2 separate regions of the Homo sapiens genome follow, and region 2 is linked to region 1. The links come from fine-mapping of genetic effects on gene expression. Tissue or cell type: gastroesophageal junction. Region 1 holds a variant in brackets; the other region holds the start of a gene. All regions are shown on one strand. Distances are between the middles of the regions. Region 1 holds the start of GALNT18-AS1 (GALNT18 antisense RNA 1). Region 2 holds the start of GALNT18 (polypeptide N-acetylgalactosaminyltransferase 18).

Evidence for each region.
Region 2: it holds the start of GALNT18, and the variant in region 1 is fine-mapped to the expression of GALNT18 in gastroesophageal junction (GTEx, PIP above 0.99). The same link has a PIP of 0.9 or more in aorta and esophagus muscle.

Annotation. Positions count from the first base shown.
Region 1 is chr11:11,569,964-11,575,331 of GRCh38, forward strand. The region is part of intron 1 of GALNT18 (polypeptide N-acetylgalactosaminyltransferase 18); the gene reads right to left. It overlaps GALNT18-AS1 (GALNT18 antisense RNA 1), which reads left to right and starts at 2. Exons shown (of 2, transcript XR_007062595.1): 1 at 2-234; 2 at 3,562-3,814. RefSeq lists an enhancer at 341-840. The variant C/T (reference allele first, on the strand shown) is at 2,472.
Region 2 is chr11:11,618,846-11,624,213 of GRCh38, forward strand. GALNT18 (polypeptide N-acetylgalactosaminyltransferase 18) reads right to left here and starts at 3,160. Exons shown (of 11, transcript NM_198516.3): 1 at 2,514-3,160. The coding sequence starts at 2,748. RefSeq lists enhancers at 1,041-2,010, 1,463-1,602, 1,673-1,902, 2,643-2,692, 2,903-2,982 and 1 more and silencers at 2,183-2,252, 2,273-2,352, 3,103-3,462.

The DNA of each region.
Region 1 (5,368 bases):
GGCCACTCAGGAAGTGAGGGAGTGTGGCTTGGACTTTTCCTGGCTGGGAAAACACACAGAAAGAGCCTGTTTCCTCTGCAAGCAGAGACGTGAGGGAGCTCAGCCAGGCTGGGAGTGTCCAGAAGGCGGAGCCCCGGACTGGCTGGAAAAGAGAACTCCATCTCAGGAACCATGGTTTGCCCTGGAGAGCTTAGCACTGGGCTGAGCACACCGTGTGGGATTCAACGTGCTAAAGTGAGTCACCATGGGCCACCCCAAGAGCCTCCCAATTTGTCGCCTGCTTCCTTTCTTGCCCTCCACCCGCTCTGTTCTCCATGCCGTGGCCAGAACAACCTGATAGCACTGCAGACCTGTGTCTCCTCCCTTCTTAGACGCCCTGGCTGGGCTTGCACTGTGCATATCTGCTTCCCTCTCCTTACAGCTAGCCCACCAGCCCTCACATGATCTAGCCTCTGCGCACGACCCAAGCCTCATCCGGCCGTCCGGCCCCTGCCCTGCCCTTAACTGGCCTCCCTAGGTTTCTTGAACACACCATAACATACTTTCTTTTCCTCCTGGGGGACCCTGCCCTCTGCCTAGAAAGCTTTTTTCCACAATTCACCAAACCAGCTCTTCTTCCTTTCAGATCACAGTCTCAAAGCTCCCCCTGGCCACCCCAGCTCAGGAAGGATTTATTTCCCTACTTACACCTTGTTTCTCTCACACGCTCCATTTTTTGCCTTGACTGCACTTCTTGCAATGTGTACTGACCCATTTAATATCAGGCTTCAGCCCAAGTGTTGTGAAAAGGCAATGATCTCAGGTCTCCATTGCATCCCCAGCACGAGCAGAGTCCCTGGCACATTCAGGGCTCAGCACACTGTTGAACAATGGAATGAACAGGTAATTTACTTGCCTGTAAAGAGTTACTCTCCAAATTATCCCCACATCTTCCCTCTTACCAACCAGTTAAACCCATGCTATATTAAAGACATGAGGTATTAGTAACAGTTAACATCCACTGAGTGTTTTTCATGGGCCCCAAGTTTTCCTGGGTTGAGCACACTGTGTGTGATTCAACATGCTAAACTGAGTCACCATGGGCCACCCTAAGAACCTCCTAATTTGTTGCCTGCTTCCTTTCTTGCCTTCATTTAACCCTCACAGCAACCTAATGAGGTCAGTCTTATTCTTTCCATTTTACAGATGAAAAAAATCAAGGCTTAAGATTAACTTAGCAGTTTATCCAACAGCTCCTGGCTAGTCAGTGTCAGGACCAGGATTTCAATCCAGGCAGCCTGACCCTTGGGCTGTGTGTATAGCTACCTTCAGACACAAAAGGAAAAGGTCCCAAGGGCATGTCTTTGGAGAATCAACCCCTGACTTTGTGTGGTGGAAACAGAAAACCAATGAGTCTGCAATAGGTGTCTCAGCAGGCTGGGAAATGAGGTTATTTGGTGATAAATCTAACTCTTCAAAATTAGCTCTGCTCTCTGAGTCCGGGTGCCTGTGCTTCCAGAAGCCCCCCAAGGCTCTAGTCCTCTAATGACTAGGTCAGATCAAAGTCAGAGTTCCCAGTGAACACCAGCTTTCTGGTGGGACATGCCTCTTCCTGGGCAGTGAGGCCCACTGTGCAGATCAACCGCATGTCCAGGAGCCCTTGCAATGGGCTGAGCTGGCTTTGGCCACCTCTTGTCAATTAGCCATGTCCAGGCTAATTGACAAGAATATTTTGACAAAGGATGTTTCAATCCTATTTAAATAGACTTTCTCCACAAATCCCATAACACGTAATGAGGTTATTTTATCTAGAAAGATATCCAATGACCTGGAAAAAAAAATTGGTGTGTGTTAAAGTGACCCTATGTCTGCATTTCCACAAGCTTCTCTAAAACTTACTGACGACAGTATCTGCCTGGCTACAGACTGTGAAGGTGTTTATTCATTCCAGAGTCCCTTTCCTGTCCCTCTGCCCTGGGGAAACACAGTGAGCTGTATGCCCAGCAGTGTAGACCACAGACCCCACACTAACTGGGCATAGGAATTCCCTGGGAAGCACTTTACAAATACAGATTTCCAGGCTCCCCCACTGAAGAGCATGATTCAGCAGATCTGAGGTGTGGCACAGGACTCTGTATTTTCCTGGTTCTCCAGCTCTCCCTGTGCAAGCAGGCCTGTGCCGCAGGGCGTGGGCATCATCGAGTAGTGGTGTGGATGCTGTTGGCATGTAGTGTCTTGCCGGGATCCAGGCCTAGCCACTCCTTTCTGTGGGATCCTTGACCACGTAACCACTCGGCCTCAGTTTCTTTATCTAGAAGAGGGGTACACAAATACACGGCCTGCTTGCTCCTTGGGTGGCTTTCAGGGATCAAGGGAGGTGGTATGAGTAAAATAATAACAAGAATTAACATTTATCAACTGTCAGCACCAGATGAAGCACTTTGCCTGAATAACTTAGTCTTCATGAAAATTGTATGAGTGTGTTACTGTTG[C/T]TATTTCTGTTTTAAAGGTAAATAACCGAGACAGAGTTTAGGCAGCTAATCCAAAGACACCCAGCTTGGGATGTGAACTTGGGCATGAGTCAGGGCCCTGGCTCCGCTACAGTCGCTCCTGGCCAGTGCTGTGTCTGTGTGAGAAGCTGTCTTAGATTCAGCTTTCCTGCTATGTCCCTCTCTGACAGCATTGGGATGTGAAGTTCTACACAGAGCAATGGTGCAGGAGGACCCCTGAACATTCAACATGGCTGCCCGGTGCCCTTCTGAGGAAGACAAGGAACAGATGGCCCTCGCAACCCTCGCCTTCCTGCCAACTATTAGGATGCAGAAGCAGGCGCCAGCTTCTGCTCACAGGAAAGAAGAAAAACACAATGGCAGTAACAACTCCAACTGGGGCATGAGTTGCCATTTTGAATTGCCAAGGCTGGAGACCAAAAATATTGAGAAGTCTTAAAACAATGGCCCCTTAAATTTGTACATTTGACAAAGAGGAGAGGGTGCTACCATTTACTGAGCACCTACTCTGTGCAAAACTCTTTCAAGTGGTCACTTCTCTTAGTCCTCACAGTAGTCCCATGAAGGAGGACGTTATCTTAGCCCATTTTACAGATGAGAAACCTGGGTCTCAGAGATACTAATGAAAGTAACCCAGGGCCAGCAAGGAGTGGACACTGGGTCTGAATTCACATTGAACTGGTTCCAAAACCCTGCCTTTCTGAACTACAGCGCCCCTCCAGAGAGCATGTTCATGTTCATTATGGTGGGCGGCCTTGACTCATACTTGACATGGATGTCCCAGAGATTCCCTACACACAGCTTTCAATACTGAAGATGGAGCTCTCTGTCCCCGGGTGGGGCCGCAGCATCACAGTGCCTGTGGGAAGGCTGGGCAGACTGAAATAAAAGGGATTTCTGCCTGCTCCTTCTCTTACACTAAGGTACATGTGCCCACCTAAGTATCAGCCAAGCCAAGGAGAAAAGCCACAATTAACTGAGCACTTACTTGGTGCCAGGAACTTGCTCACAAACGATATTAAAATTTTACAGCAACCATGCCAGACTAGGTCTTATTTTCCTTATTTTACAGATGCAGAACCTGATGCCCAGCAAAGGGGAAAGGATAGCAGGAGCCTTGATCCACCCAGGAAGAGGTGCCAGCTGGATCAGCAAGAGGCTGGTGGAGAACAAGAAGCTGCTATGAACCAATCTTTAGAAAACAGCAGGATCTCCGAGGAGAGAAAGAATTTCTCTCCAGCCAAAAGCTTCATGAGATGGAAGGGGATATCCTATCTCCTATATTGTATCCTCATCATGGTCTCAATAAACCCACTTGGAAGATGCCCATGCATGAGCGTCGACGGTGACTTCCCGAGGCTGGACGGCGATCCTTCCCACTGCAGAAGGCGGGGTGCTGAGCACTGTGCTGGGGCTTTCTGTGCACCATCTTCATTTGGTGCATTTTGAGGGGTCATTCATTCTATCAACATCTCATTATAGAAGGCAGAGTTCAGAGAAATTAGGATGGCTGCCCAAGGTCACCTAACTACTCTGAGAAAGAGCTGACATTCAAATCTAGGCCCCTGAGCCTGAGCTTTCCACATGACACTGTAGCATCTTTCAACAATCAGAGGACAATCTAGGCAAGTCAATTATTGTAGGTATGTGGCTCCCCATGCCCCATGGGAGAGGAAGGGTACATACTGCCTCATAAGAAGTTCTATCAGTACATGAGTGATAGAGAGGTTACCATTCCCTGAGGTTGCCTATAGGACAACTGCACACTAGGTCAGACCCAAAAAACTGGAACTACACTTTATAGATGGCACTGGAGAAAGTAGATGGCTTCTGAAGGCTACAAATGAATCCCAGCCCTGCTCAGACCAGAAATCTGGTCAAATCTGCTCCCTAGACTGGGGGAGTAGAGAACCTGAGGGCTGGATAGGTACCATGGGTGAACCATCTCCCTGGTCTGGACTTAAAGGTCTGATTTTGATATCAAAACATAAGAACCTCCCTCAATTCTTAACTACATCCAAATTCTGGCTATGCCACATGATGTCCTATCTTCCAGGAAGAAGCATCACACCTGGCTTCTAGCTTGGGCTTTCATCCACTTAAAGGAATCCACAGCATCATGGCCATCATGACGTCACATGAGGTTTATTTAGGTTTGAGGCCTGTCTCCTATCATGAAAGTCCATCTACCAGCACCTACCAGATGGCTAAAAGGAAGCAAAAGACACTCTGGGTGCAGGCAGGAGCTGATGTCAAGGGGAATCCCTTCTGCAGGACAGCTAAGAGATCCACACAAAACAGATGGAGCCAATTTAATATCTCTCCCAGCAAAGGAGTCGTATTAGGAAAGCAAGGACAGAGCAGAAGCATTAGTATAAATTACTCTGAGCGTTCATAAAGGTTTGCTGCTCAACACTCCCCGGAGGCTAAAGAATTGTTTGCTCCAGCCTCTCAGACCCAAAGCATGCAAATTAATAGTCATGATTTATCAAGAGGTATTTTTCATTGGTGTTCTTGGACCAGGTTTCTTTAAGTATTTGGGTTCATCTATCTAGCATGTGCCTGGCTGAGTACTGCTACTATTATGCAAAATGCATCATAAATCCAACATTTAAGAGAGGTTTATTTAAGCCAGTCTAGAGCTTCCAGGGTCCAAGCTCATTACCATGAACACAACTAATTCCTGGCAGGGTATGGGGCAGTGGAAGCCAGTCCATTGCATCTGTAAGCCACTGAACGGTCACAGTCTCTGTGGGTGGGGTGTGGGGCTGGGAGGAGGACCAAGGCACCTTTGTCCCACTCCAGAGCCTGCCATCCCTGGTTCAGCCTCTGCTTTGAGGCTGCCACATCTTTGATCAAGCTATTACTTCCTCCTGGCA
Region 2 (5,368 bases), 49 kb after region 1:
TTATTCCCTCCAGTTCAGCAAAGTAAACTGGATTGTTCAAAGGGCTATGCTGACTAGAGGGAACTTGACAGTGGGTTACACATAAACAGCTTGTACCATCAAGCACAAGAGCTTGATCTTATTGTCCTTTACCACCCTCTGCCTTCAGAGAGCTGCACTTGACCAGCCCCAAATTTTATAGGCCCTTTACCTCTGTTTCCTAAATCCCAGCTCAGGATGGCCCCAGCATGGCAAAGGGAACTGTTGGTCATTGCTACACCATCATGGCACAGCCAACCTGGTAACCTCTGCCCCTGCCTGCCTCATTTCCAGTCTTTCCAAGTCACTGACCCTTCCCTACCTTCCTATAGGTGGCAGCTTTGGCCCTCTGTCGAGATTGTGGTTATTTCTGAATACCCACAGGGGTCATTGCACGTGTACAAGTGGAACAACACGTGTTTTAGGGACCCTGTCTCCTATTTTTTTAACCTATCTTCTCCAATTTTTCAGGTATAGATTTGAAAGTGCTGAACAACACATAGTTATAAAGTTTCCGGGGAGAAAAATCACAATGCTTCCTTTCAACTTCAACATCATGCTTTTCCATGTGGAACCTTAGAAATCATGTGACATGGTCCACATTCCACATGACTGGCACCCACTCCGTTACAGGCTCAGGGGTTAATGGCATCCCCTGAAAGCATCCCCAAAGCAGTACCTTGCTCACCTCCTGCCTGACCAGAAAGAAAAGCACAAGAGAATCATTTTCCAGGAACACACACACACACAGAATCTGTGAATGAAAATCTCAAAATCTGTCGGCAAACTAGAAATGTCAAAGTAAGGCATGGCTTTGTGTCTCCTGGGGAACATTCTGAATCACCCTGGGGGAAACACTGTACTTCTATTGCTGATTAATAGTCAATCAAGACCTATGGGATGGAAAAGGACACGTAAGAAATAACAGCAACTGGCACCCACAGATAGGTAAATTGGTTTTCAAGCCCAGTGCCAGGTTGAGAGGCAGAGGCAGGTCTGAAGAAGAAGCTGTCAATGTCCCTCTTTTCTGGGAAGGTGCCGAAGCCATGGGCTTGTTTTGAAGTCATTAGTCAGGAAGCACTATGGATGTGGATGCCTCTCCTGCACTCACCTGAACCTCCCTGAACCTTCCCCTCCTGGAAAGGAACTATTCTGGACACCTGGGGAAACACCAAATTCAGACGGAGGAGCCATCTCTACTCTGGCAAGAGCAGCAGGTGCAAGGATTGGAATTCAGACATCCACGTGTAAACAAAAGGGAGTGCTCCTGGCGGGGGGGTGGGGGGTAAGCCTTCAGTTCAATTCGATTTTGCCAAGGTCTGCCATGCACTGGCCCCTGAGCCTGGTGGGCCTGCTAGGTTTACAGGGGAACCAAGCTCGGCCCTGCCCTTAAGAAGCTCACACACCTGGAAGAAAGCAGGGGGCGCGGGGAGGGGAGGAAGTGTGGACGTGAGCGCGCGCGCGCGCGCGTGTGTGTGTGTGTGTGCACACCCGGCACCAGTGCTCCTGGCGCCCGGAACTCCATTCCCTCCCATGACAGCTCATTGACCAGGTCGCCTCGGGAGAGCGCCCTGCAACCCCCACCCTCCCTTTGGACCCCCGCGCTGGTCTGGAGCGCACCCAACCAGCGTAACCTTACACTTCAGACCCAACCCAGGTCTGCTCAGCCCCGGCTGCTCCCAGGGCCTGAGAGTGGAGCTACAGTAGGGATCGGCCTTCACCCGGTCCCGGGCGGCTCCGCGGGGAAGGCGCAGCCCAGGGCGTGTTCTTCCAGTCTTGGGCGGAGTCATCACCACAGTGGACAGAGACTCCAGCGCTACTTCCCGGCGTTGACACCTGCTCCTGGAGAGGGTCCTGGACCCGCGGGCTGTGGTGGGGGTAGGGACTGCTATAGGTTCAAGCGGCTTTTCAACCACAGAGGGCTCCTTGCATTCCCTATCGCCTACCAACGGGATCACAGCAAGACTGGGGCTGGGGCTGATACAACGCAATTTTCCTAGCCTCGCTTGTCCGGCAGCCTGCGGGTCTTAACTGCCAATAGTCAGGGCCGCCGCGCGGGCATCTCGCCTGACGCCTACAGTGGCCAAAAAAGCTCGTTTGCCCGCGCGTTCCCTCTTGTACACACACAGACATTCACATGCACACACACTCTGAGCCGGACTTGTGTGCGATCCCGAGAGCCCGCGAGCAACCAGCCCAGAGTCACACGCACATTTGGACACGTGCGCAGCGCGCCCCCATACCGCCAGCTAGCTGCACACATCCGCTCGTGCAGCCCTGCGCACACACGTGTGCCCCGGGGAAGAGCGCACGGCCGCAGACAGAAGGTCCCGAACGCAGGCAGGAGCTCACACGCAGGCCCCACGACTACCACGCATCTGCGGCCCCAGAGCCCCGCCGTGGCTGAGTTGATGCGCACCAGCCCCAGCGCACCCCGCGCCGCGCGGGGCACTCCCGGGCCTCATGGGCGACCCAAGTTTCCGGGGCGCCCGTACCTTGAATGTGCTGCTTGATGACATTCTCCAGGTGGTCCAGCCGCTCAATAATCTTCAGAGTGTCCCCTTTGTCTTCCTCCAGCTTCTTGTCGGGCGCCGGCTCCTGCCCCCGCACATACACGCTGGCGATGTAGTTGGTGACCCAGCCCACGTAGAGCAGGCAGATGATGTTAGTCATGCCGCTCAGGATCACGCAAGTGGACACCAAAGTTTTGGTCTTCCTGGTGCACACCATTCTGGGCTCCTTCCTCCATATAGAGCTCCCGGGGGCCCTTCCTTGTCGTGCGCCCCGAACTCCCCCGCGCTCGCACCCCGTAGCACGTCCGGAGCCGCTGGGCACCTCAGCACCTGAGTCCCGAGGTTCTCCAAAGCCCGGTCCGCTGCCGGTGTAGCCGCCGTGCCCAAGTTTGCAGCTCCTGCCGCTGGCCACCCGGAGAGACCTTGACAAAGGAAACCAGGTGGATTTTTTTCCAAATTAAAAATCCCTGAACCCTTCCTAGAGGGGTCACGGGTAGCCGGCAGCCGCGCGTCCAGATGTGTACGTCTGGGAAACTTTGCCACTGCCTGTGTCGGCGGCCACGCCGCTTCCCATCGCCAGCGCCGGCTGCCTTGGCGGTCCGACCGGCCCGCGCTGCTAGGAGAACAGCGGCAGCGGCAGCGGCGGCGGGGAGAGCCGCGAAGCAGAGCGGCCCGGCCCCCTCCGAGCGACAAGCGCTGCCACCAATCGCGCTCCGGCTCGGGAGAGGGGCCGGTGCTGAGCGGCAGCGGACCAACGGGGAGGGAGCGGGGGGCGGAGTCCAGCTCCCAGGCCCCACCTGCTGGCCGCCCCTGGCTCCCGCCCCCAGGGACGCGCCCGGGCCTCCACCCGCGCCTGCACAGGCTGCCCCAGACCTGAAGCTCCCGGAGAGGGCGCGCTGCCAGTCCCAGCCCTTAGGTCGGCAGCTTCCTCCGTTAGGGGAATTCCATCTCTTGCTCTTGGGCAGGAATCTCCTGGTTTTGTGGAGGGGGTGGGGGGTTCGCACGGGTCAGCTTCTTTCATCCGCCCGGGGCTTCTCGCATTGGTGCCACCAGTCGACTCCTGGAATCTTTTCTTGGTTGCCAGGACGCTGAGAAGCCAAGGAAGTGCCAGCCCCAGCGGCATCCACTCCTTCCTTGGCCTCACTTGGGCCTCCACCCTGCCCTCTGCCCTTCAGCCACCGGCCTCCTGAGTGTGTCCAGACCTGGCCCTAAACCTGGCTGAAAGGAGCCAACCCTCCGGCAACCTCCCAGAAGCAACATTGGTGACCTATTAGATGACTCTCTCGACCACTTCTTCCCCCCCCCCACCCCCCACCCCCCACCCCCACCGCCTGCCCCAATTTTTGCCCCTATCTAGGTTTTTCTTTAAGTCTGTACAGCTCCCAGGACATGGATGTGTCCTTTAAGCCCAGTTTTCATTTATGTGGAACCAGGGTCATCCAGTGCATAAAGAAACCCTGCAAGGAAGTGCCGCTGAGGGGAACTGAGGTCTGTGAACTGTAAAGCCCTTCTACATGTTGTTTATGATTGCTATCATAGAGGGCGGTGGGAGAGACCTGTGACTGAGCACAGGAGGAGGCCAGACGCAGACAGTGATACTGCTGTGTTTGTTCTTACTGCCAATGTTTACTCATATTATCCTCTTCTGCTGAACACCCCGTTCTCAGCACCTGAACGGAATTCCTTTAAACAAAGACTTTTTACAACATAGATTTCCTGCCTCTTCTCCATCTCTGAGTTGCTTTATTTTTTTGGCCTAAGCCAGGGAGGCAGCCTGCTGCATGCCCACTTTGTTGTGTGCCAGCCTTCCAACCAGCCACAGAAATACTCAGGGCAGCTCCATCCTGGGATATCTTCTGGATTCAAATGACTGGCCCCACAAGAGAGGGAGAGCACAAAACCAAAGAAAGGGCACTTTATGGCCCCATCAGCCAAGGGCCCTTCTACCAATGCTTTGTTTACAAAACCTCCCCAAAGATGCTATGAAAACAGATACCAACTAGGGACCCGGGAAGATTTCCCTTGATCCATAGCTGGAAGAGAGAACAGTGGGTGTGGGTTGGCGTGGGCTGGGGTATAGAAGGGGGAGAAGAATCGTGTGTATGGTATGTAGGAGATACATACATGAGAGGAGAGAATGTACACAATTTCTGAAAAAATCAAGGTAGAGAAATCTGCCTCCAGGAGGGAGTAAAACTTGTCTCTCCCTTTTTTCTCTTCCAGAGGTATAATCCAGCTCACAAATAAAGGATCTGAACTTTCTTCTGGTTGGACAGACTTACAAGCAATGCCCTTGAGTACAGGCTAAGGTGTAATCTTTCCTTCTGTTCTGCCCCCTCTCCCAGGAGGAGCCCTGGAAGTTCAGCCCTTCTTGGGATCTTCCTAAACCACCACAGGACTAGAAAGAGAAGGCAATACTCATTCTTTTCACATTCTTAATGGAAAAAAATTAAATCCCAAGTTTAAAAAAATGAGGGTCAAGAAGAAAACAAAGTGAATTGTGTGATCTTAAATTTTGTACAGCTGATCCTCTAAGATAATGTGTAACTGTAGAGGGGATGAATACAACAAAAGAAGAATGCTGAACAGGTTCTCCTCTCTGAAAAGTCACAGGTTTGAGTTGACCTGTTCAAAGAATTTTCTCTGGAGGTGCAGGCAGACTCCAGGGTTCTAATCCCAGATCCACCATGTATTAGTTATGAGAGCCTGGACACATTTCAAAAAGTCAGTAGGGCTCAATTTCTCCCATGTATCAAATGTAGGTAGACAATACCTTACTGAGGACAGGCTGTGAAAATTAACTGAGAGAATGTTCCAGAAAGGGCTTTAATTAGTGC